2 separate regions of the Homo sapiens genome follow, and region 2 is linked to region 1. A link means that fine-mapping ties the variant in region 1 to the expression of a gene that starts in the linked region. Tissue or cell type: lung. Region 1 holds a variant in brackets; the other region holds the start of a gene. All regions are shown on one strand. Distances are from middle to middle.

Evidence for each region. PIP is the estimated chance that this variant, and not a neighbour inherited with it, causes the effect.
Region 2: it holds the start of ALK, and the variant in region 1 is fine-mapped to the expression of ALK in lung (TOPMed, PIP 0.99).

Annotation. Positions count from the first base shown.
Region 1 is chr2:29,221,737-29,224,490 of GRCh38, forward strand. It overlaps ALK (ALK receptor tyrosine kinase), which reads right to left. Exons shown (of 29, transcript NM_004304.5): 20 at 1,606-1,792; 21 at 781-871; 22 at 608-672. Among named protein-coding and RNA genes, the nearest start is that of CLIP4, 110 kb to the left of the region's middle. The variant G/A (reference allele first, on the strand shown) is at 1,600.
Region 2 is chr2:29,920,236-29,922,735 of GRCh38, forward strand. ALK (ALK receptor tyrosine kinase) reads right to left here and starts at 1,351. Exons shown (of 29, transcript NM_004304.5): 1 at 1-1,351. The coding sequence starts at 424.

The sequences.
Region 1 (2,754 bases):
GTTCAGAGTCTTCCCAGTGTGACAGGGGGCCATGAGCCCCCACCTGATCTTGAGGTCAAATATCTGCCCCCTCCTTGAGGGGATCTGCTGTCACAGCGGACGCCCTCAGGAGCCATAGGCACTGAGACTCTCAGCTTAAATCCAGATCTTGGAGCCTCAAGTCAAAAGGTGCAGCCAGCTGAGACTCAGCCCTGCTGATGGGAGCCTAGGATGGGGTGGCCTCCCATCATATTAGAAGCACAATTACTGGGATTGGTGAAGGGTCTTGGAGGGAGATTATATCTTGTACTGTCAAAGTCTAGCATGCTCCATTTCTTAAGAAAAAGTGAGGGAAGAAGAACCAGTGGATAACAGCAGGGATACTGGTTGCAGACAGTGACATCGGTGGGATTATTAGGCCACACAGACTTTGTTTCTGAAACAACCATCAAGGGTTGTTCCATTCTGGTAAGAAGTGTCTAGAATGTTTGGGAGTCTCCTACTGGAGAAAAGGGGACATGCTAGGGACAACACGATTTCCCTTGGAGATATCGATCTGTTAGAAACCTCTCCAGGTTCTTTGGGGGCAGAGGGGAGTTGGGGTGAGGGTGTCTCTCTGTGGCTTTACCTGATGATCAGGGCTTCCATGAGGAAATCCAGTTCGTCCTGTTCAGAGCACACTTCAGGCAGCGTCTGGGCAGAGAAGGGGAGGGTGGGGAGGAGGAGGAGGCTGTGAGCTGAGAACTGCAGCCTACAGAGTCCGCAAGCCAAGGGCAGGCTCAAGAGTGAGCCACTTCTTACCTTCACAGCCACTTGCAGGGGGCTTGGGTCGTTGGGCATTCCGGACACCTGGCCTTCATACACCTCCCCAAAGGCGCCATGGCCCAGACCCCTGTGCAAAGGAGAAGACAAGAGGAGACAGAGTCAAACAGGCCACAATAATGAGGCAGCTGGGGGTCCTGAGCCTGGGCGTCACATTTAGTGGACAAACACGAGAGGCGGGGGTAACATACACACTCAGGAGTAATACCCTCAACATGGCTTTGCTATGCAATCTCGGGCTTCCAGTTCTTCACCTGAAAACTGGTAAGAAGGATTCCAACCAGGGACTCATGACAATGGTCAAATGTTTATTCATTCAATCAGTAGTTATTGAGTCTCTGATATTTGCCAGGGACACAGGGGTGCATAAGCCATGGCTTTTCCCCGGGGGAGGTTCATGCTCCTTGGGGAGAGACAGATCACTGTGGGTACTGGCTGGGGAGTATTTCCAGTGAGTGACAGAGGAAGGCGCAGTTGCTCTAGATGCTCAGAGGAGGGGCCCTTTGCTCCCCTGCTCCCCTGGAGGGAAGGGGAGCCAGGTAGACTTGGAGAGAGCACATCTGAATGAATTTTGAGGAGAGCCCTGGTTCTCCTCTCATTGTATAAACTCCATAAACTATGGGAGTTAATGTAAGCCAACATACATGGCCCTGAATGTCAAGGCTTGTCCTCCTAGGAGGGCTAGGGGTGCCCATAGGGAGGGCTCTGCCGGCCTTTTGTGGCTAGAGGAGTCTGCGGTGCTGTGATAACATTCAGCCCCTACACTGCACCCCTCTCCTCCCAGGACGGCAGCAGGGC[G/A]CTCACCGAATGAGGGTGATGTTTTTCCGCGGCACCTCCTTCAGGTCACTGATGGAGGAGGTCTTGCCAGCAAAGCAGTAGTTGGGGTTGTAGTCGGTCATGATGGTCGAGGTGCGGAGCTTGCTCAGCTTGTACTCAGGGCTCTGCAGCTCCATCTGCATGGCTTGCAGCTCCTGGTGCTTCCGGCGGTACACTGCAGGTGGGTGGTCAGCTGCAACATGGCCTGGCAGCCTGGCCCTTGAAGCACTACACAGGCCACTTCCTACAGGAAGCCTCCCTGGATCTCCATATCCTCCCCTGAGCTCTGAACCTTTCCATCATACTTAGAAATACTAATAAAATGATTAAAGAAGGTGTGTCTTTAATTGAAGCATGATTTAAAGTAAATGCAAAGCTAAAAATCAGATATATGGAAAATAATTATTTGTATTATATAGGGCAGAGTCATGTTAGTCTGGTTCCTCCAAGAAGCAGACTGGAGATGGGATTAGACCCAATATGGTCTGCAGATTTTATTAGAAGAAATGCCCATGAGAGGAAATGGGGAGGGAGCCAGGGAAGGCTGGGTGAACCAGCAGACTGTGTTGCAAGTATAACCCCACGTGAACGAGGGAGGGAGGGAAGGTTGGGTGGAAGCACCCTGGGTGCCATGGAGCCTAAGGAAGTTTCAGCAAGGCCCTAAGGGGTTCTGGAGCCAAAGTCAGTCATCAGAGGAGTCCCATGACTCCCAGGAATTGGCCTGCCTTAGTATTTCTGCTGTGCTCAGCCATTGGGTAGGGCAGCTTCAGTGCAATCACAGCAGTGGATTTGAGGGTGCAGCTGGGATCTTGGTCAGTTGTGTTTCCTATAGTTGGAGAACTGCCAAGCCACAGAGTTGGAGAAGAGCCACATCATGAAAAGATCTCTGAATTGGTGTCTGGGGATCTGTGCTCTAATTCCGCCTCTTGTTACTTACAAGCTGAGCCATGAGGACCAGGTCACAGGACCTCTTTGGACTGCAGTTTCCCTCTCTGTAGGCAGGGATGGTAACTCCTGCCCTGTTTCCCTAACCACTGCCACTCCCCACCCTCTAGGGTTGTCAATGAAATGAATTCACCAACATAAAATGGTTTTGAAAAATCCTAAAGAGCTCTACCAATGTGAGTGACCATTATC
Region 2 (2,500 bases), 700 kb after region 1:
CCAACTGCTTGGCACGCCGGAGCTTGCGCACGGAGCCGCCCTTCAGCACCCTGGACAGCGTCCGGGCCTCTGCCGGGGCTGGTGAACCGGCGGTCCAGGAGACCCCCGGCGCCGGCCCCAGCAACCTGAGCAGCGGGGCGCAGTCCAGAGCTAGCGAGCCGCGGGCCTCGGGCCTGCCAGCCTTCAGCTCCGAGGAGGATGGTGGCAGCAGTAGGTCCCGGGCGTAGACACGGAAGAGCGAGGGCACCACGAAGTCAACTGCCAGACTCTTCCTCTGCAGGCGCGAGTAGCTGAGTGGCTCCCGGGGCTGCAGCGGCGGCCCCGCAGCTGGGGAGCCCGCGCGCTGGCCGGTCCCCATCCCGGAGCCCACAGCTGCCGTGGAAAGCAGCAGCGGCAGGAGCCACAGGAGCCCGATGGCTCCCATCCCGCCGGAGGAGGCCGTTTACACTGCTCTCCGGGCCCAGCCTCACCCTTCGCTCTCCCCGAGATGGGAAGAGGCTCTGAACAGTCCTTGGTACCCAGCGGCTCCTTCCACCTGATCTCCAGAGGACTGTGCGTGCGCGCAAGTCTCTTGCTTTCCCCCAACTGCACGGAGGCGAGCAGGAGTCTAAATGAAACAGACCTGGAAGCTCAGGGGCGAGTCCAGAGACACTCAAGCACACTGGGCTCACTGGCTGGGACCTTGAGCCTCCCGCTCTCCGCGCCGAGTGCCGCGCCCCCGTCTGTAGCTCGCTGCGCTCGGTACAGAGGAACTACTATGGTTGAAGGGAGGTGGCAGTTGGGTACCGTCCTCTCCTGCCCCCCGCAGTCGGAGCTGGGGTCTGTCCCCTCTCGGGGCAGCCTCCAATCTCTGCAACTTTTAAGGCTGAGAACGGCGGCTCCCAGCTGCTGCACGCTGTCCTGGCCGCCTTTTGCGTTCCTTTTGGCTCCTCCAAGCTCTTCTGCCCGGTCTGGGCGGGAACCGAGGGCGGAGGCTGCCGTCTTGCGCACCCTCAAGCTATCTCTCCGCTGCGGGAAGGCTTCGGACTGTCTGCCTGCTGAACTTCTGGGCGTGAATCCCAGCCCCCGCGCTGCGCAAGTTTGCAGCGTCCTTGCTCTCACCGGCGCCTCGGCTCCTCAGAGTTCGCAGGCACTGGAGCGGCCCCGGCGGCAGCAGCTGAGGGCGTTCAGGGCAGGGGCGCCCGAAATCTTGCCGCCCCCTCCTCACCCATCATCAGCGCCCGCGGCTTTGGGTGGCCGACCAGAGGGCGGCCGGAAAGCACCTCGGTGCCCCGCGACCCTCCGAACAGAGGCGGCGGGAGGTACCAGCTGCTACCACCGCTGCCGCCCCCAGAGCCGCTGGATCGCATCTGCCTGGGCGCCCGCCACTTGCAGCTGGCTGAGCCGCGCGAGCGCGCGCAGGGAGGGGGCGGGGCCCGGAGGGGGCGGGGCTCACAAGCCAACTCCGCGCTGCTGCCCGACCCACGCAGTCCGGCCTCGCCCCGCCCCACCCGCACCCTCCAACCAATGGCGTGGCTCGATCGGCTCCTATGCAAATCTGCAGAGGCCTCGGCATTCATTGAGAAAAGGAGTGAGCCCGCCCCACCCTCCCTCTGTTCCCTCTCCAGTCTCTTGTTCTTCCCCTCCTCTAGATTCCCTGCCCTATTTCTCTGCAGTGTGAAAGGGAGCAAATGTGAGAACTGGAAGAGGCCTTTGCAATCAAGCACTCTCCCTAATTATACATTTAAGAGATTAAACGGGTCCGACTTCGGAAAAACAGGTTCCAGAATAAAACTGGAGGAGAGGGGAAGGGAGGGGGGAGTGGGAAGGGAGGAGGAAGTGGGGAGAGGGTGGCAGCGCGACACTGGCAAATCTGAGAACAGCTTGTATTAAGGCCCTGAGACAGAATATTTTCTGACCCATCTATTATTTGAATGCATTCCTGGGAGCTTAGGAGTCCTGCCGTCCACACAGGAGAATTTGGGAATAGGGGGGCAGAGAGGGATGGATGGTCTTGGTCTGGCAGAGTTGTTCTGCAGCTACAACAAATACCTTTCAGACCCCTGTCAGTCGCTCTGTTTTCTCAGAATGGTGTCTGAACATGTGTAACCTCCCCTAGTCTCTGTAAGGCAAACATTTTAATTCCAGATTTACAGATGCAGAAACTGAGTTGCAGAGCATTTAATTGTTTGCCCACAATCTTGGGAATGAGGGTTCAGAACCTTAGGCCTTTTTTACTCACCTGTAATGGCTGTACCTCTCCTCTCCCTTTCCTTTCGTCTCTCCTGAGCTGCCAACACAGAACTCATAATAGCTGTTTTTATAACAAGTGGTTCACTAGATCCTCAGACAAAACTACCATCTTTGGGTCACACAAATCCCCTTGATTCCTTCTTAAAGGCTGGTTGTCAGGCCTTGGGCTGACTGTTGAAGCTAAGAATAAGGCAAGATCCTCTCTGGAGCTCACGGCCTGTCGGGTAGCACAGGAGTTTTCTCACAGGATCAGAGCACAGTGTCACAT